3 linked regions of the Homo sapiens genome follow. The protein of the gene in region 3 interacts with the protein of the main gene of each other region in a biochemical or structural test. Each region holds a gene or a part of one and is shown on either strand. Other genes may lie near its edges.

Evidence for each region.
Region 1: the proteins of MIOS (region 3) and SESN1 form a complex in vitro, tested with the Homo sapiens proteins (one study listed by BioGRID).
Region 2: the proteins of MIOS (region 3) and SESN2 form a complex in vitro, tested with the Homo sapiens proteins (one study listed by BioGRID).

The regions. Positions count from the first base shown.
Region 1 is NC_000006.12:108,993,813-109,000,846, reverse strand, and holds part of SESN1 (sestrin-1), read left to right. Parts: intron 1-173; coding exon 174-356; intron 357-2,091; coding exon 2,092-2,334; intron 2,335-6,237; coding exon 6,238-6,385; intron 6,386-7,034.
Region 2 is NC_000001.11:28,255,161-28,262,551, reverse strand, and holds the start of SESN2 (sestrin-2), read right to left. Parts: upstream 3,035-7,391; 5' UTR 2,705-3,034; coding exon 2,615-2,704; intron 1-2,614. UniProt on the Homo sapiens protein: Functions as an intracellular leucine sensor that negatively regulates the mTORC1 signaling pathway through the GATOR complex. In absence of leucine, binds the GATOR subcomplex GATOR2 and prevents mTORC1 signaling.
Region 3 is NC_000007.14:7,563,048-7,569,905, forward strand, and holds the start of MIOS (GATOR2 complex protein MIOS), read left to right. Parts: upstream 1-3,836; 5' UTR 3,837-4,025; exon of another isoform or gene 4,026-4,559; 5' UTR 4,560-4,641; intron 4,642-4,978; 5' UTR 4,979-5,076; intron 5,077-6,858. UniProt on the Homo sapiens protein: As a component of the GATOR2 complex, functions as an activator of the amino acid-sensing branch of the mTORC1 signaling pathway. The GATOR2 complex indirectly activates mTORC1 through the inhibition of the GATOR1 subcomplex.

The DNA.
Region 1 (7,034 bases), on a different chromosome or scaffold from region 3:
CTTACAGTATTTGAATTTTTAAAATGTTTATATAAAAACTGCATTTCTGTAGTTTACGGAAAATTTGAAAACATACTAATAAACTTAATTAGCTCTTTTGCATGTTGTAAATAAAAAGGATATGTAGTTCAAGGTTTTAATATTTATAATTAGAATAATCTTTTTGTTTTAAGGCTGCGGCAAGACATCAGTGCTCCTACTTAGTGAACCTGCATGTAAATGATTTCCTTCATGTTGGTGGGGACCCCAAGTGGCTCAATGGTTTAGAGAATGCTCCTCAAAAACTACAGAATTTAGGAGAACTTAACAAAGTGTTAGCCCATAGACCTTGGCTTATTACCAAAGAACACATTGAGGTAAGCAGTGGGGTAATATATCTTGGGAGTCATTTCAGACTTTTTTAGAGCAGTTTTAGGATTACAGAAAAATCGCACAGAAAGTACAGAGAGTTCCTATTTTCTACCCCCTGAATCTCTTCCCACAGATGCACATTTTCTTCTGTTACAGCATTTCTGTGGTACATTTGCTGTAATTGATATATTACTAGTAACTCTATAGTTCACATTAGGGTTCAGTCTTTGCATTGTATCGTTCTACACATTTTGACAAATGCCTAATGTCACGCATCCATTACAATATCATATGGAATAGTTAGTACCCTAAAAATGCCCTGGGTTCCACCTGTTCATCCCTTTCCCCCCCTTTCCCCTTCCCCTAAACCCCTGCAACCACTCATCTTTTTATTGTTTCTATATAGTTTTGCCTTTTCCAGAATGTCATACAGCTGGAATCATACAAAAGTATGTAGCTTTTCAGACTGGCTTCTTTCATCTAGCAACATCCATTTAAGGCTTCTTCATGCTTTTTCACGACTTGATAGTTCATTTCTTTTTATCACTGAATAATTCTCTATTGTATAGTTATGCCATAGTTTGTTTATCCATTCACCTATTGAAGGACATCTTGGTTACTGCCAGTTTGGGGCAATTACGGATAAAGCTGCTGTAAACATTCATGTATAGGTTTTTGTTTCTTGTTTTTTGTCGACAAAAGTTTTCACCTCATTTGGATAAATAATTAGGTGTGCGATTTGTGGATAATACGGTAAGCCTACGTTTACCTTTGTAAGAAACTGTAAAACTCTTCCAAAGGGCAGTATCAGTTTGCATTCCCACCAGCAATGAAGCAGCATTCCTGTTGTCCCACATCTTGGCCAGCATTGGTGTCAGTGTTTTGGATTTCAGCCATTCTGATAAGTGTGAAGTGGCATCTCATTGTTATGCATCTTTATGTTACGTTTTAAATGCCATGTTAAGCTAGTTCTGGTTCTATTTATTAATAGAGATAATAGAGTAAAAGTAGATTGATGTTCTCTAAAATTGTCTACCATGCACTATAAATTCTTAGAGATGCATCTTTTGGTCTTATCTATTTCATAGAATAGATACTATTAGATAATTAAAGATATTATCAAGAAGATACAAGATTTGAATATATTAATACAATGCCTATTATATATTGTCAAGTAAGGAAAAATTATACAAGATTACAAAATAGATAATGAAGCAGAAGTGACACAGAATTGAATAGAAGAATTATAGAAGTTATATATAACTTTTTGATGATTTAGGAATATTTAATCAAGTTGTTCAAGCCACTATCTTAAAAATTCCTTGAGGAGGCCTTATAATAAACAAAGCACAGGCGTTTCACACAGCAGCTTCTACTTTTAAACACAAATTTATTACATTTGCTTTGAGATTTTGAACTAACAACACAGTAATTCATTCATAATCCAGCATCTGAAATACAGCAGCCACTTTTAAGCAAAATGCATTCTCTTACATTTTAAGTCAATATTTCAGAAAATCAAAATAATAGTGAATGTCTTAACAGATTATGTTAAGTTCTATTTGTGAATGCATATTCATAAAAATTAGCAAATTCTGGGTTCTACATGTTTCAAATGATAATTTTATGCTAGGCTTTGTATGATGACTCATGTTTTCAATAAATTAAATACTAAAATGAACTGTATACTTTTACCACACCCCAGTACAAAAATATATTCTTTTTTTTTTTCCCCCTAAGGGACTTTTAAAAGCTGAAGAGCACAGCTGGTCCCTTGCGGAATTGGTACATGCAGTAGTTTTACTCACACACTATCATTCTCTTGCCTCATTCACATTCGGCTGTGGAATCAGTCCAGAAATTCATTGTGATGGTGGCCACACATTCAGACCTCCTTCTGTTAGCAACTACTGCATCTGTGACATTACAAATGGCAATCACAGTGTGGATGAGATGCCGGTCAACTCAGCAGAAAATGTTTCTGTAAGTATTATTTGTCATGAGATTGTCATAAAACTAATCACAATAATTGCTGTTATATTATTTCTTCAGTTGGCTTCTTAGAAAAACCCACCCTGTTAAGACTGTGGAGATATTGGGCCCCTATATCTATTCATTCAGTAGGGTTTTATTGACTGCCTCACATGCTCATCACTAGTCTAGGTGATATACAACATTTTACAAAAGTGATGTACAAAACTCTAAGACCCTGTAGGAGTTTACATTTAGATAATTTTAGGATCAGGAGCCAACAGCATGTGTCCCGTCAGGACCAAATAATATTGATTGGCTACTGCAGTGACATGAGGGAAGGCTGAAAATAGTGTGGCCTGGTGGTGGAGACTTTTTGTGCCAATCACATTCTTCTCTTTTGCACAAAATAAACAGTCTGGCTTCTTAATTTTTTATATTTCAGAAGATTTAATCAACTTTGATCTAGAAATTTCTCTCTTCAGAATTCTTTTTCATGTTTAACTTTGCACCAATATAGAAGGTGATATCAGGTGAATGTAAATGTGTTAAAATGCTTTCACCTCTATTCCTTCTGTTCCTGGCTTTTATATATTCTTAGTTTTGTTACTCCTTTGAAACAGAGCAAGTTCAGTTTTCTATAAGCAAATTTTAATTCCTGTATATGATGAATCAAAATCTCCTTCTGCATTCTTTTGTTGTAGTGAAAAAGCAAGGGTTTATTTTATGCTTCAAAAATAAATTTTAGAAGCAGTACCACAGCCATCTGAATGCTTTACATGCATTTTCTGAGTTATATTATCCCTTTGAAATAGATTTGACAGGTTGAATTGCCTTTAATTTATATATTTGACTTCGGGCAAGTTACTGAATCTCAGTTCTTTTGTATCTAAATAAAAGTAAAACACAAAGTTATTGTGAGGTTTAAATGAAATGTCTCTAAAGAAGTAAAATGCCAAGTACAGCACTTAGCATTTGTCAGGTGCTAAATAAGAGGTAGCATTTACATATGGTGAAATTAGCACAAGAAAGAATAATTTTCCCAAGGTTGATCATAGGACTGCCAAAGACCATCAGTTTCACCCTCCTTTGAGCTGCCTAGATTCATGTTATAGGCCTGCATATGGCCACTGATTATTTTTCAAAGCTTGGCAGTCAGAAGAGGATCCAAGAGAGTATTCAGTTGCTAGAATGCTAGGAGATGGATTCTTCTCCTTGCTACCAATAATTTAGTACAAGGCTAAAGAAAAAAGTACTTGATTGTTTCTAGTTCTCCTTCTATTAAAAGAATGAATAGTGAAAGAAGATAATTTTTATTTCTCTAATAAGCTTCCTATTCCCAGGTAAGTTGGATACTTTTAGAAGGTTTATGGCCTACCCTGATGACACTTTGACAGTGAGCTGATATGGCTTGTTCTTTAGGTACATATCCAGTATCTGACTCAGCTCTTCAGATACAAATGGTAACAAACAAGAATTTTCCCTCCCTCCCAACCCTGGAAACTACTTATTCATTTCTTTACTCTCTCCATAGTTGTCTTTTCCAGAATGTTATATAGTTGGAATCATACAGTACGTAGCCTTTTCAGATTGGCTTCTTTCACTTAGTAATATACATTTAAATTTCTTCCATGTCTGTTCATGGCTTGATACCTAATTTCTTTTTAGCACTGAATAATTTTTCATTTTCTGGATGTAGCAACATTTCTTTATTCCAGTAGCTACTGAAGAACACATTGGTTGCTTCTAAGTGTTGGTGTATTATTCTGTTCTCATGCTGCTAATAAAGACATACCCAAGACTGGGTAATTTATAAAGGGAAAGAAAAAAGAGTTTTCTTACACAATTTTAACATTTTAATATTAAAATGAAATGCCATTTTTTTTTTAATCCCAACTTTAGCAGATCAGTGAAGGAACAAAGAAACCTACTTTGTTTCCTTTCCCTCTTATTTCAATATAATTTATCAAGAATTACCTTTCCTAAGAATACTTAAAATTTGGGCTCTTTAAGAGGAGAATAGGTAAACAAAATAAATTAGTGACAGATAATGTGAGTTGACAGAGATCTTTTTTAAACTTTGAGTCATCCTGTCATGAAACCTAATCCTTTTCAGCTATTTTTTATTTGGTTACTGACTCTATGTCAGGAATAACTGGGGAAAATGCATGCATGCACCACAAGAATCTTCAGTATCGTCATAGAAACACTTCCCATCATGAAAGTCTTAGAGAAAGGGCTTAATACTGGGCATTTCAGTATAACTGTTTGGATCAAAAGAAAATGTAAAGCACAAGTGATATAGATTGTCTCTTAATATAGAATTATCCTGAGAGTCATTCTCCAGCAAGTATTTCTTGAATATCTACTATGTACCAGGTACTATGCTAGGCTTGGGATATATACAAGTAAACCAAACAGATTTCCTACCTTTATGAAGGTTTGGTCTGGGAAGGGAGCCTGCATTAAATCAATATCATGCGAGTAACAATTATAAATTATGATTGGTCCTCTGAAGGAAAGAGGAGAGGGTTGTGTTAGAATAATTGGAGCTTGTGGGGTAAATGACAGTGTTTACAAGGATGTAAGCTGCTACCTGAAGGATCAATGGGTGGAAGCCAGGAAGAATGGAAGATAGAGGTCTTAAAAGCATTCCTGGCAAAATAAATTTATAAGGGGGGAAACATTAATTTTGTATGTATACATTGAGATTTGAGATTAAGACTTTTTTTTCTCTTTTTGAGACAAAGTCTCTCTCTGTTGTCCAGGCTGGAATACAGTGGCACAATCACAGCTCACTGCAGCCTTGAACTCCTCCTGGGCTCAAGTGATTCTCCTGCCTTGGTCTCCCAAAATGCTGGGATTACAGGCATGAGCCACTAGCCCAACCCAGACTTCTTAATATATTCATTTTATAAGAAAGGTATAAATTGCATAGATTTGATCTAGCTTTTGTAGCAAGAATGCAGCAGGGTATAGAAGTATAACCAGTTTGACTAGTGCAAAACCACTTGGCCAGTCCTTTGTCAGCCCCATTACTCTATGTGTGACACTGCTCTAGTCATCCCAGCAAGTGACAGCTGCCAGATCCATTTGCAGAGGTCAGGTGGCCAACTCCAGCCATGTAGACATCTTTCATGTTTAATTGGTAAATTGTAGAAATAAAGCTAATTATTAAAGATGATAGACACATTGACAATATGTATGCCCAGTGTACACAGTTGATGCAAAATCACTTATACTTTGTGTATCTTATTTATTTAAAGATTAAGCAAGTAGAAGTTATCTTACGCAGTTCTGCTTTAAATTGACAAGTAGTTTAAAACAGCATAAATGGTAATGACATTATTGCTAATTTTATAAGGTAAAAGCATTAGAATGTGTTCTTAAAATCATTTTTTTCCTTATATTTTAAAATCTGCATGTCTGTATTCCTAATAGGCCAAAGTAGTTTTTTATTCATTCATGTACATTAAAATTATAGGAATATTTTCCCTATATTCTACTAAGATATAAATTCTGGCCAGGTGCAGTGGCTCACGCCTGTAATCCCAGCACTTTGGAAGGCCGAGGTGGACAGATCACAAGGTCAGGAGATCGAGACCATTCCTGGCTAACACGGTGAAACCCCGTCTCTACTAAAAAACACAAAAAATTAGCCGGGCATGGTGGCAGGCACCTGTAGTCCCAGCTACTCGGGAGGCCGAGGCAGGAGAATGGCGTGAACCTGGGAGGTGGACCTTGCAGTGAGCCGAGATCGCGCCACTGCACTGCAGCCTGGGCAACAGAGCAAGACTCTGTCTCAAAAAAAAAAAAAAAAAAAAAAGATATAAATTCTTATGAGACAGACTTAAAAGATAATTCATATATATTCTATGTCTGCCACATGTAACATTAATTGTATTTTTTCTTCAGGTAAGTGATTCTTTCTTTGAGGTTGAAGCCCTCATGGAAAAGATGAGGCAGTTACAGGAATGTCGAGATGAAGAAGAGGCAAGTCAGGAAGAGATGGCTTCACGTTTTGAAATAGAAAAAAGAGAGAGTATGTTTGTCTTCTCTTCAGGTAAGAACAACCATTATATAGTCAATATAATTATTGCAAACTCAACTTTTTATTTAGAGAATTTAAATAACTTTTAAAGCATCAATCTAAATATGTCCTTCCTTTTAGAGAGACTATTGCATAGGTATTCCTATTTACAAATAATTTTTAAAGCAAGCAACTAAGAAAAGGTCATAAGTGAAAACATCCTAGACTAAGGGGGAGGACATTTAATTTGGATTCTGGCACTAAAATTACTTCTAATAAGCTTTGTGAACTTGGCTTAGTCACTTAACATATGAGTGCCCTCTTTTTTCTCTTTTTTTTTTTTTTTTTTTTTTTAAGAAACAGGGTCTTGCTTTGTTGCCAGGCTGAAGTGCAGTGGCGTGATTGTAGCTCACTGTAACCTGAGACTCTTAGGCTCAAGCGATCATCCTGCCTCAGCTTCCTGAGTAGCTAGGACTACAGACACATGCCACCATGCCTGCTTAATTTTTTAATTTTTTTTGTAGAGATGGGGTCTTGCTATATTGCCCACGCTTCTCTTCCTTAATATGAGGAAATAGTCCCAAGATTGCTTCTAGAGTTAAAATTCTGTGATTTTTTTGGGCACGGCAGTTTGTACCTGTAGTACCGGCTACTCAAGAAGCTGAGGTGGAAGGATCACCTT
Region 2 (7,391 bases), on a different chromosome or scaffold from region 3:
CTCCCAGGCTCAAGCAATCCTCCCACCTCAGCCTTCGAAGTAGCTGGCGCACACCACCACGCCTGGCTAACTTTTGTATATTTTGTAGAGACAGGGTTTCAGGCTGGTTTTGAACTCCTGGGCTCAAGCAATCCATCTGCCTCGGCCTCCCAAAGTGTTAGTATTACAGGCATGAGCCACTGCATCTGGCCGAGAAAGTTATTCGGGAGCCCAATACTACCAGTACTAGAGTGAAGCCCTTGGAACTTTCTGAAGATACACACATCTGAAGGCAATGAGCTCCTGAAAGGGAGTGTGTGGTGAAGTGACAGGGAGTTAAGGGAGCTGCACGCCTGGGTCTTCTCTTGGACCTCGGGCACCTGACTCAAAGATCAGCACCCTGCTGTCTTCTAAGGATGCCACCACTCAAAGCAGAAACCGTCCGAAGGTCCTCTTTTCTCGAGAGAGGAATACACAGAAATCTCCCAGATAGGCCAGGTGCGGTGGCTCATGCCGGTAATCTCAGCACTTTGGGAGGCCAAGGCAGGTGGATCACCTGAGGTTAGGAGTTCAAGATCAGCCTGGCCAACATGCTGAAACTCTGTTTCTACTGAAAATACAAAAATTAGCTGGGCATGGTGGCGGGTGCCTGTAATCCCAACTACTAGGGAGGCTGAGGCAGGAGAATTGCTTGAACCTGGGAGATGGAGGTTGCAGTGAGCTGAGATCGTGCCACTGCACTCCAGCCTGGGCAACAGAGCAAGACTCCATCTCAAAAAAAAAAAAAAAAAAAGATAAGAAAAAGAAACCTCCCAGATAGCAGCAGTTTTCTCCACTGAGGAAACATGGCTTCTGTGTAAAGATCCCTCCCTCAAAGCCTTTTCTCCCTAGACCAGGCACTGACCCAGAGAGGGGTGTACAGTGTCTGATCTCAGGAACAGGCTCAGGCACCCCCTTGTGAGACACTCTGGAGAAAGCTGTGCGTGCCATGGCCACGTTCTGATAATAGCAAGCAAGTATCACGCAGTTACTATGTTCCAGTCACAGTGCTTCAGCTTTTGCTTGTATTCTGAGTTAATTCTCCCAACAATCCCTTAGAGATACTGTAAAATCCCCATGGGAAGAAACCACAGATCAGAGAAGTGATTACTGGCTAAGCCACACACTGCAAGTTAGCAGGAGGGCTGGGACATGAACCCAGCACTCTTGCTCTCTAGTGTTCAGGTGTTCTCAATAGTAACATTATTTCCATCTTTCCAAAGAAGTCACACAGCTGAGAAGCTGCAGGAGAAGAGCCATTCCTCCACATGGCGCTCCTAAATCACGGCAGAGAAGGGTAAGCAAGCTAACAAAAACCAGGGCACAAACTATACACCGACGGAGGTAGGATCCCCAGAAACCACGTTACTAAGAGAAAAGCAGGGATTTTCCTGGGGTCATAGCACTCCACCAAATCCCAGGTCCAGAATACAACTTCCACCACACTCTAGGCCTGTAAACTAAAGCAACTAGAAGCTCCTAGTGCCGTGCAATCTCCGAAATCATAAGGCCAAAGAACAAGATATTCAGTGGGGTTAATGAAGAAAGCCTCTTTCTGAGCCCATCGTGGGCCTCAATGTTCTTCCTGTAAAATGGGGCTATAGCGTAGCTTGTATTGCTGGTTTAGTCCTGAGGACTTAGGTTAAAGGCGAAAAAAACTCAGAGCCTGGTATCTAGTAGGTGCATAATAAATGATAAGATGTCCATTATCGCTGCTGCTGGTAGTGGTGGGGGAGTGCGAACTGTCAGTCTGGTTAGGTCCAGCCTAATTCCCGGTCTCCCTGCAAAGCCCCTGCGGGCTATGCCGGGATGCGAATGCGGGGGGGTGGAGGGGAGCGGCGCGAAGGGAGGGTGGGGGAGGAATTTCTGGAAAACAAACTTCTGGGCCTTCAGACCACTTACTTAGCAGGGCGCAGCCTAACCCGCGCTTGGCTTCGGAAGCCGCGACCAGGGTTGTCCCCTCTCCCCCCAGCTTTGGCTGCCGCCGCCGCGTACCGGGCGGCCCGCCAAGCCCCCAGAGCCCCTGCGCTCTCCCTCCAAAGCAGGAGTGCGGTGGACATAGGATGAGGTCGACTTTCACTGGCCAGTCCCAGGTGCCTACGCCCCGCGCTGGGGGACAGGAGCCGGGAGGCACCCCAGGAAGGGTCCTCTGCCCGCCGGCCCCCGCGAAGAGGAAGGGACTCCGCGGAAGGGGGCGGGGAGGAGGAGTGGTCTGGCCGCTCCGGCCGGGATTTGCCTGGACTTGAAGACGCTCAGGAGCCCAAAGCTCGGAGAGCCTCCAGAAGGCTTCTCCCTCATTGGCCAGGAGTCCGAGGGAGCCGAGGAAGGATCCGCGGCCCTGGGGTGGGGCGGTGAGGGAGAGGGGGAGAGGGAGGGAGGAGGGGGAGAGGGAGGGGGAGAAGGAGGGAGAGGGGAGACAGAGTGGGGGAGGGGTGCCGAGGGCCGCGGCTGCCAGTTGATGCAACCCGGGTCCCGGGTTACGCGCTCGGCTTTCCCTCCCCGAGCCCAGGACACACCGACTCAGCTCCGGACAGCCTGAGGCTCAGACGCGGTTCGGGGTTCCAGGGAAGAGGGGCGTCGCGCGGCCGCCGCTTACCTCTCCGGGGCCCGAGTCGCCGACGCCGCCCGGGGCGAACCGCAGGTAGTCCTTGAGCTCTGCGCGGCACTCGGAGTCCGCCACGATCATGGTGCGCGCCAGGACCCGGTCGCGGCTCGCCGACGACCCGTGCACCCGAGTGGGTTTCGGAGGGACGCCCGAATGAAGCCGGGACTGGGCGCCGCCGGGGAGCTTCTAGAACCCCGGGGCGTCTCTCGGGGCTCCAGAACGCTCCGGAATCCGAGAACGGCCGCTTTGGTGCTGGACTCTTCCCCCAGTCGGGCTTCGGGAACGGCGAACGGCCTCGGGGGCCTGGGAAGGGCCGCAGCGCAGGGGTTTTCACGGCCTCGGAAGTCCGCAGGGGCCAGGGCTGCTCCCGGACCCAGCGCTCCTCAGCATCCCCGCCGCGGAACTGCCAGCGCTCGCCGGGCTCTGACACCAGCAGTTCAGCCCGCTGCGGTCCCCGGGGGAGGGCGGGGACACAAAAGCCCGGCGGTCCAGCCAATCAGAGGTCTGTTTCCCCGGGGAGGCGGGGGAAACTCCGCCCCCTGGAGTCACGGGCTCCGCCAATCAGCACCGGGGAGCGCCCGGAATTCTGGGAGTTGTAGTCCGCCTCGGGTGAATGCTGCAAACTTTTGCAAGACGGTTTAGTCAGATCCCTGGCAACACCAGACGGCAGTGACAGCCCTAAGAGTCATTAGGGTTGCGTGATGAAAAGGGACTTCACTGGGCTAGGCCAAACAGCCGAGTGTGAAATCTCCTAAATGAATTCTTCATCTTTTCAGTTCCTGGAGGGACTGGCTAGGGTTAAGAGAGGTTTGGCTCGCGTCCTATCCGGTGCTGCTAATTATAGAACTGAACCCCAGATATTTAGAGGTCAGAGGGCACAACCCTGCTCCCCCTGGCCTCGGGGAAGCTCCAAAGATGCGAGACACAGGGAATTCACCTTATTTGTGGAGCCTCAGGAAAAGCCTTCATTCCTTGAAATGTCATTGGTAACTTCGTGTGGAACCTCAATCCCTATTGCTGGAAGTTTTCTTCCTTCTGCTACCCGTCCTGGCTTCCACCCCTCCCACCCTCCTCGAAACTTTGTAACAAGGTGTTCTGCTGGATCTTTGCTCACCTCTCCCTCTGGCCTTCTCTGACTCCTCTTTCACCACCCACTTCCTAAAACGTGGGTGCTTCCCCAGTTTGTTTTTGCCCCTCTTCCCTCCAGACACTCTCCCTGATCTCATTCACTTCCTGGCCTTCAACTCGCCTCTTGCCAGAAAGTTGCCTCTACCAACACCTCAGCACCTCCAAGCTAAATTCATTTTCTATTCATTTCAAACGGAGCCTCTTCCTTCACAGTTTTCCTTCAGAGCTCCTTTTTTTGTTTCCATTTTAAAGTTATTGTTTATTCTAGACAGGGAATCCTGCCAGGGGTGAGGGTGGATAAGACCCCCAAGTCCCCCTCTGAGACTTCTAAGTCTAAGCTTACAATTCCAAAGATGAAACCGACTTGGTTTCCTGCCTCCAGATTCTTGGGAAAAAGAGATTAATCTCACCCTCCCCTGAGCTCCCAAGGCACTTGAGCTGGATCTCTTTTCACATGTATCACATTCTACCTAGTTTTTTTTGTTTTTTGTTTTTTTGTTTTCTGTTTTTTTGTTTTTGTTTTTTGTTTTTTAGTAAATAGAGACAGGGTCTCAATATGTTGCCCAGGCTGGTCTCAAACTCCTGAGCTCAAGCGATTCTCTCACCTCAGCCTCCCAAAGTGCTAGGATTATAGGCATGAGCCACCATGTCCAGCCACATTCTGCCTTGTATTGTAATTTTCTATGTACATGTTTTATCTGACCCTTTTTTCTTTTTATTAGTATTGTTTTTTAGAGATGGGGTCTAGCTCTGTCACCCAGACTGGAGTACAGTGGCATGATCATAGCACGCTGCAGCTTCAAATTCCTGGGCTCAAGCGATATTCCCTCCTCAGCCCCCCAAATCAATCACTGGGGTTACAGGTGTGCACCACTGAGTCTGGCTTATCTGATCTTTTTAATTGTAAACTCCTTGAGGGCAGGGTCAACATCTTTTTTTTTTTTTTTTTTTTTTTTTTAAACAGAGTCGCACTCTGTCTCCCAGGCTGGAGTGCAGTGGCCCGATCTTGGCTCACTGCAACCTCTGCCTCCCAGGTTCAAGCAATTCTCCTGCCTCAGCCTCCTGAGTAGCTGGGATTACAGGCAAGTGCCACCACACCCGGCTAATTTTTGTATTTTTAGTGGAGACAGGGTTTCACCATGTTGATCAGGCTGGTCTCGAACTCCTGACCTTGTGCTCTGCCCGCCTCAGCCTCCCAAAGTGCTGGCATTATAGGCATGAGCCACCGCGCCTGGCTGGCAGGGTCTACATCTTGACATCCATCTCCTGCTCTATGTCACCTAGCAAAATGTCCTGACAATCATATGCCCTTGGTCACGGAATCTTCCTTTGCATCAACTTCCTCTCTAAACTACCCTGTGTCAGCTTCAGCTTTCATTTAAAAAATTTACTATGTGGCCAGGCGTGGTGGCTCACGCCTGTAATCCCAGCACTTTGGGAGGCCGAGGTGGGCGGATCACGAGGTCAGATCAAGACCATCCTGGCTAACATGGTGAAACCCCGTCTCTACTAAAAATACAAAAAATTAGCCAGGCGTGGTGGCGGGTGCCTGTAGTCCCAGCTACTTGGGAGGCTGAGGCAGGAGAATGGCGTGAACCCAGGAGGCAGAGCTTGCAGTGAGCCGAGATCGTGCCACTGCACTCTAGCCTGGGTGACAGAGTGAGATTCTGTCTCAAAAAAAAAAAAAAATTTACTATGTAATGTCAAAGTCCAGATCAAAAGGCTTCACTGGTATTTCATCAGCTACAGAATTAAGATCAAACTCCTTGGGTGGGCATGGTGGCTCACGCCTGTGATCCCAGCACTTTGGGAGGCAAAGGCAGGCAGATCACCTGAGGTCAGGAGTTCAAGATCATCCTGGCCAACATCGTGAAACCCCATCTCTACTAAATATACAAAAATTAGCCAAGCGTGGTGGTGCACGCCTGTAGTCCCAACTACTCGAAAAGCTGAGGCAGGAGAATCGCTTGAACCCGGGAGGCAGAGGTTGCAGTGAGCTGAGATCGTGCCACTGCACGATCTGGGTGTCAGAGCGAAACCCTGTCTCAAAAAAAAAAAAAAAAAAAATCAAACTCCTATCTTAACATTCAAGGTTTGCCAAGATGCACCTAATTTACCCTCCCATTCTTACCACCTGCAACATCCATGTTTCTTGTTTGGCCTTCAAATCTTTCTTTCAGTACTCTTCTTGCAAATCTCTACCCATTGAAATAGTATCCATCATTCAATGCCTTCATTCCTGTTTGTGGCCTGAAGCAAGACTTTAAATGACACCTCCTCCAAAAAGCTCAGCTGAAAGTAATCTCACCCAGTCCTCAACATCTTCAACACATTCTTTTTATCTCTTTCTACCACTGATCTCCAAACTTGGTGTATGCTTGATATCATGTGTATATATCTCACCACTTCCCTCCAACTGATGATAAAAATCTCTCATTGACCACGTGTACAAAGTGAGAAAACTTGAGCTCAGAAAGGTAAAATTGGCCAGGCTTGGTGGCTAACATCTGTAATCCCAGCATCTGGGGAGGCCAAAAGGGAGGATCCCTTGAGCCCAAGAGTTCGAGACCAGCCTGGTCAACATGGAGAAACCCTGTATTCACAAAAACTACAAAAATCAGCAGGGTGTGGTGGCATGTACCTATAATCTCATGTACTTGGGAGGCTGGCCAACATGGTAAAATCCCATCTCTACCAAAAACATAAAAATTAGCCGGGTGTGGTGCGAGAGCCTGTAATCCCAGCTACTCGGCAGGCTGAGGCAAGGGAATAGCTTGAACCTGGGAGATGGAGGTTGCAGATTGTGCCACTGAATCAAAAATAAAAATAAAAATAAAAACAAAAATTGCTTATCAGGGTCACACAGTATCTTCTTTTGACTGCACAAGGCTGTGTTAGAGCACTTTTTTTTTGTTTGTTTGTTTTTTGTGAGACGAAGTGTCCTTCTTGTTGCCCAGGTTGGAGTGCAATGGTGTGATTTCGGCTCACGGCAACCTCCGTCTCCTAGGTGCAAGCAATTCTCCTGCCTCTGCCTCCCGAGTAGCACCACCACGCCCGGCTAATTTTTTATTTTTAGTAGAGATGGGGTTTCTCCATGTTTGTTAGGCTGGTCTTGGACTCCCGACCTCAGGTGATCCACCAGCCTCAGCCTCCCAAAGTGCTGGGATTATAGGTGTGAGCCACGGTGCCCAGCCGGCTGTGCCAATTTCTTAAAATAAGACAATAATAAAGTTGGCCACAAGGATCCACTCTTCCTTCCATGAAAGATTTCTCTGTAGCATGTGATACTGTTTGGTAACATGTTACCTACAGCAGAACTTCTTTCAAAATTGGAGTCAATCTTCTCAAACCCTGCTGCTGCTTTGTCAACTAAGCTTATGTAATATTCTAAATCCTTTGTTGTCATTTCAACAATGATCATAGCATCTTCACAGGAGTAGATTCCATCTCAAGAAACCACTTTCTTTGCTCAGCCATAAGAAGCAACTCCTTAAAGAAACAAAAAAAGAAAAGTCAGCCTGGGCCAACATGGGGAAACCCCGTCTCTACTAAAAATACAAAAATTGGCCAGGCGCAGTGGCTCACGCCTGTAATCCCAGCTCTTTGGGAGGCTGAGGTGGATGGATCACGAGGACAGAAG
Region 3 (6,858 bases):
GCAGTGGCTCATGCCTGTAATCCCAGCACTTTGGGAGGATGAGGCAGGCAGATCACTTGAGGTCAGGAGTTCGAGACCAGCCTGGCCAACATGGTGAAATCCCATCTCTACTGAAAATATAAAAATTAGCCAGGCATGGTGGCGCATGCCTGTAATCCCAGCTACTCAGGAGGCTGAGGCAGGAGAATCACTTGAACCTGGGAGGCAGTGATTGTGGTGAGTTGAGACTACACCACAGCACTCCAGCCTGGGCGACAGAGCGAGGCTCCATCTCAAAAAAACAACAATAAAAAAATCCTATTAGGAATACAAAAGCTTAAATTAAAAACAAACAAAATACCGAGACTGAACTACAGTGGCCCTAGGATCTATTGTAAAACGCATGTTTAGTAAAGGCAACTAGTGTAATCTCAGACCAGTCTGTCAAGTTCTCTGCTACGGTTTACTGTTTCCAAAGATACAAAGCACTCACTCAACTCAGTAAATATTTTTTGGATACCTATGCAACAGGTGCTAAGGGAAATCCAAAGTTCCATGCTAAAAGATTGCTACCTGCAAGGATCTTGGTTTAGTAGAGAAGGGGAATCAGTTTCCAAAAAGACTGAGAAAGGTGTCACTTATTCCTGTGAGGGGCTTTAGAAGAATTAGTGGCAATATGAAAAAATATATACTTTCACAAAGCTTGAGTGGAAAAGAAAGTTGAAAAAGGGACATTAGCTGGAGGAGGATGTAGAATAAATACGTTGTTTTAGGATTTATTCAATACATTTTTATTTACCACATTTATTAGGTACTGTTTTACATCCTGGTGATTAAGCAGAGAATAAAATAGACAGAGCCCCTCTGTTTTAATTAGGGAATTGGCTAAGCTGCTCTACCAGGTCCAAACAAACAATGATTTTTTAAAGAACAAAGTTTATTTTCTCTTGCATAATGGTCCAGAAGTCTGTGGTTGATCCAAGGGAGGAGGTGCCCCAGCTCCCTGAGATTAGTTTGGGACTTAGGCTAGTGAGAACAGCTTTGCCTTCCTTAATACATGGCTTCCATTTCCAGTCTGTATTTCTTTTTGCCATTTGCCAGACAGCAAGAAGAGGGAAGAGAAAGTGTATAGCAAGCAGCTTTCCTTTTAAGGGACATGATCCAGTTCTACTCACATCTTACAGGACATAACTTTTTGATATAGCCTTACCTTGCTGAAAGGGAGGCCAAGGAATGTCATGTCTAAGTAGGTCACCAAGTGCCCTGCTCAAATTTGAATGTAGAGTTATTTCCTCTTACTAAAAAGAAAAAAAATACAGAATGAAAACTGGAGATAAGGAGAAGACACAGTCTAGAAGATAACTATAGGAAAGTAAAGAGATGGCGACGTATGTGAAGTTGTGGTGTCATAAAGACAACAACAAAGGAGCTAATTTATAGGTAGTCAGTGACAAGTGAGCAGTCTTGAGTAAAGGGAGAGTATGAGTCATGTAGATTTCTGCATTCCAGACAGAGGGAATAGCTAGTGAAGAAGCCCTGAGGCAAGAGCATGCTTGTCATGTTTAAGGAACAGTGAAGTCACAGGGATAAAAGACAAACCAGAAGAAAGTGATGATATGCAACAAAGTGAATGAGACATGTCAAGAGAGGAAGTAGTCAAGAACAACAGAAGTTGCAAGAGTGAAGCTTTGGCCATTGAAACTGGCAGCATGGAGCTCACAGGTGACCTTGACAAGTGGCAGTTTCGTGGCATGGTGGGCATGAAGGACTGAATGGAGTGAATTCAAGGGAGAGAGGGGGAAGTGGAATTACAGAGAGCAAATATGATCCTCTCCTTTGAAGAGAAAATGGGAATAACTTGAGTATGTGTTGAAAGTAAAGAACCAGTAGAAATGGAGAGGCAAAGATACATGGAAGTGAAGTAATTGATGGTGCAAGGTCCCAGAAGAGGAGATATACATGGGGTTCCTCCTCTTACTCTTTGTCACCTAAAAGAAGGTAAGAATGGTAGTGAATCAAGATGTTGGAGGAGGGAAGGAGGAAGCAGTGGGAGGTTGTGCAAATTCTAGCTAATAGTTTTAATTTTCTTTTCTGAAGTAGGAGGCAGTGTCATCTCCTGAGTGCAAGCAGAAAAGTTGTCCTCAACTATGTATAGTAGGAGTGGATAAGGAAGAGATTTGTATTGATCTGAGGTTTTGTGTGGGGGTTTGAGGCCAGGGTCAAAACCACTGAGAAGATTGGCAAGATAGTGTTTGAAGTGATGAATACTGTCATGTCTCCTCTCAGTAATACAGCACTTTCTTCAGCCTACATTCTTCTAATGGCAGGATTGGAAAGGCAATACTTTCCCCAAACTCATCATCTTATCAAAACCATCTGCCACCAAGATCATCAGGACTAAGCTCATTATGCTGTTTACAGCCATCACCACCACAAGCCCAAGACCACCCACTTTTAATCATGAACAGACAAGCAAAGACTGTCAGACATCTGAAGACTGCCTCGAGGTCAGACTCGTGACACCTGAGGCAGCACCATTCACTCAGTTTTGGGAACAAAAAACTTGGAATCCTCTTTCACCGTCATTCACTTGGTCAGTCACCAAGCTCTGTTCATCCCGCCTTCTAAGTATTCCCCAGGGCCCCCACTTCTCTCCATGCCCACTCTCCGTGCCACTGGTAACCTGCGTTTCTATCATCCCTCATTCTGATACTCTATCCCTCCAGCTCTCTGCGCAAAAACTGATCATACTGGCCGGGCACAGTGGCTCATGCCTGTAATCCCAGCACTTTGGGAGACCGAGGTGGGCGCATCACGAGGTCAAGAAATGAGACCACCCTCGCCAACATGGTGAAACCCCATCTCTCCTAAAAATACAAAAAATTACCTGGGCGTGGTGGCGCGCGCCTGTAGTCCCAGCTACTCGAGGTGCTGAGGCAGGAGAATCGCTTGAACCCGGGAGGCGGAGGTTGCAGTGAGGAGAGATCGCGCCATTGCATTCCAGCCTGGCGATATAGCCAGACTCCGTCTCAAAAAAAACAAAACAAAACAAAAAACTGATCATACCACTTGCCTGATTAAAAACTTTCGATGACTCTAACATTGCCTTTAGGTAAATGCCATCCAAACTCACTAAACTGGTTTCCAACCCGTTTCTGAAAGCACCTTAATCTCTCCCCACTTCCTCTGCTCATTCATCCATACCTACTGCCTCCTCACTGCTATGTCCTCTCTCCTGACCCGGCACTTGCTCTTTCCCAGTCCTAGAAGGCTCTTCTCTTCCAGTTCCCACTGCCCTTTTCCCTTTCCTGGCTAATCCCATACTCATCCTTCTTGTCTCAACCTAGTGGTCCTTAAGGAAGCTTTGCTGACCCCCGACACCGAGCGGGCGTCCCTCCTGTGTAGCACTGTGTTAGCCCTACCAAGTCAAGGCTCTCCTTGCCTGTTTCCTGCCGGAACCATGTCTTTTTACTTCACTCCTGTCTCCTCAGCATTCCAGCACAGTGCTGGGTACATAACAGGTGCTCAAGACAAGTTTGTGGAATGACTAATGAGTGAATAAATCATTAACCAAACACCTTGGATCTCCTACTACATCATTTGCAAAAAAAAAAAAATGTTTAATAGAAATTAAAATGGACCCAGTGAGCTAGAGTGTGTGACCCTGCTTAAAAACGACAGAGTGGTTCTGAGAAGCAGTCCCAGCCTAGGAACCCGGGGATCCGGCCTGTGGACCCACGGGCAGGGCCTGCGGGGTGCACCGGCGCTTTCGGGCGGAAGGCGGGGCCTCCCGGCCAGTGACCCCGCCCCGAGGCGCCTCCCGGGCGGGGAAGGGCGGGGCTCGCGCTGGGAAACTCCCCTTCCAAGGCCGAGGCGCCGCTGCGCGTCCTCCAGGCGTGGTGGTGGGGTCGTGGGTCCCAGCCCAGTGGTCCAGGTCACGGGCCGCACGGCCGCGGCCGCCATCTTGCCCGCGTCCGGGCTCCTGCGGCGGGCGGGGCGGTGTCCCGGCCGGAAGCGGCTGTGCGGCGGCCGCGCTGCCACCTCAGGTCAGTGAGCGCGACCCGGTTCGCGTCTCGACTCTCGGGAGCGCCGCGGCCGCAGCGAGGGGCCGGAGATAGCCTAGTTGAAAGGCCCGGGCGTCTCGGCGGGGAGCGCGTTCCGCGCTGTAGGGTAATCGCGCCGGGCGGCCGGCCGCCTGGCCGGGCCTCAGCGGGAGCCACCGGGGGCTGCGGGCGGCCGTGGGACCTGCGGAGACCTCCTCGGGGCGCAGGGAACACGCTACAGCCTTCGCCGCGGCGGGCTTGTGGGGAGCGGCGTCCCAGCCTTTCCCGGGAGGCTCAGCCAGGTGCCTGGAGCGGGAGAGTCGGACTCAGATTCCTGCTTTACCTAGAATAGCAACGTGCCCTGTTCCCGTTGTACCCTCTTAAATACTATACTTCTTAAACGGCCTGTCTCCCGGTGAGCTCTGTTCTCTTCTCATATGAGTAATGAAAATTAAGAGGATGAATGAAACCTCACACATGTTGTGGACTTTGCTGAATAGGTTAGCAAATGACTGCAGGCCTTTTGTATATTTTAAGGGAAATTTGGATATGTGCAGTGCATCTCCTCGAAGATGCTGATGGTGGAAATTTCTTGAAACCGCTCTCGTAATTTGCCACGGTAAGAAAAGTAAAAGACAACATCAAAAAGCATGTGGTTGGATCCTTTGTACACTGAGTAGTATTTTAATGTGTTGGACTTCACTGTCCAGTAGCCACATGGGATTGAGATGTGCTATAAGTGTAAAATACACATCGGATTTCCCAGAGTTGGTGCCAAAAAAACGTAAAAATCCTCAATAATTTTTGCATTGATTACATATTGAAAGGATAATGCTGTTGATATGTTGGCTAAATAAAATGTGTTTTTAAATTTCATTCCACCTAATTTTACTTTTTAAATGTGGCTACTAGAAATTTTTAAATCATATGGCTCACACTGTATTTCTTTTGGACAGTGCTGTTGCAAATATTCTGGTGAATGAACACAGAATCAGCATGGCTTTCCTTTGCTGAGAAATCACTGATGGGAAGTGAGACTTGTTAAACTTGAAAGGTGAGGATATAAATACAAGCTGTAATTATTGCAGACCGCACCCCTTCTACACCTAATTTTTTAATGTCTCCAAAATTTGGAAAAAACATTAACTTTCAGGGCTGATTAAGGGAATGGTAGTAATACTAACATCTGTGTGATGTGAAGAGCTCATTTCAGTTGATTGTCACAGCTTTGTGAGATGGAAATGGGATAGATTTTATCTCGGTTTTATGGTTTTGGAGTATTACAAGATTTGTTAGGATCTGAGCTGGGGAGTGGCTGTAGGATTTCTGACTCTAGATTGTTTTCTTTACACCAGATTCTTGGTGATGTATGTTCATGAGCAAGGAACTGTTTATCCTGTATATTACATGGTGAAAAAAAATACACTTCTTAAAAGGGTGGACATAGATGCACCTCTCTATACAGGGCTACTCTTATGATGTGCAACCTGTGCAGTAGCACAGAGCCCAGCATTTAGAATGGCTAGCACTTAGTTTAATGGCCAGTCTGCTGTCACTGTCTGGACATTGTAAATAATTTTTAAATGAGGGGCCCTGCATTGTTATTTTGCACCACGTCCTGCATATCGTGTAGCTGATCCTTTTCTTTGCAGTAATCTAGGACGGAAGTTGAGAGACCTTGGATAACCACCCAAACATCTGGTCTTCACTTTACTCCTTTGTGAAATTAGAAGATTTAGCTAGTCTTTTTCTCTCAAGTTTTGATTCTGTATGAATTACTGTCATCAGATTTTGTGGATGGCAATAGAAGTATTTTAGGTGCATAACATGGGAAGAAATGCTGATATTCTCCGTTGAGAGTCATGTAAATCAAAGTTTTAAATTTTATGCTAAAACTCGTATTTTATGTTTTGTAAGATGGATTTTTCTTTGTGGCATCAAGATTGCTTACCATAGACCATTGGTATAAAGAGTCGGGTTGTGGAATGAAAGCCTAGATAAAAAGTGTGTTTATTTAAACATTGATTTTTCAATGAGATGGGAAAATGGCCCAGATCTCATGATGTCTCCAATTAAGAGATTTCCTTTGTGGGGGTATGAGTATGAACCCTTATTTGGCAGTATCTGTTCCTCTTTGCTGTCGTAGCTGCTTCCTGTTACGTGAGGTGCCCCTCTTCCTCCTCATTCTTAAATTTTGAAACTCTTTTTAAGGTTGGACTTAATTTTATCACTACAGTGCAGGTTTTTTTTAGACCAGAGACTTCATCGGCTCATGTTTGCTGCTGTGTTCCCAGCTTCATAACCATGCCTAGAACATAGAAGGTGCCCAATCAATAGTCACAGAATAAATGAAAGTATAATAGCAGACATTTAAATCTTGGCCGGAGCCAGCCTCTCCTAGGGAGCGTAGAAGTGGAAGCATGAGGAAATAGGTAAAACTTGGAGATAGCAGTTGTGAGAAGTGTCAGAGGGATCATTCAGCACATGCATTTATTTAACAAATGTTTATTAACTTCCTACTAAGTGCCTAGCACTGTACTGGGGACTAGAGGTACAATGGAACACCAAAAATACTTCACCTGCTCTCATGGAGTGTATAATCCAGTAGAAGAGACAGAGATGGATGATTAAAGGGAAAGAATACTGTTTAATGACAGTGTATGTCTGAGTAACCAGACCTCGACTAGGGAGGGGATGGAGGGTGGTTGACGTCAAGGTTGAGCAGGTATTAACTTGGCCCAGAAGACAGGGAACTGTGCTCTAACCAGAGGAAACATCATTTGCAAAGGTATGGTGATGAGGGAGGAGGGTATATACTCTAGGAAGTGGAAAGGAC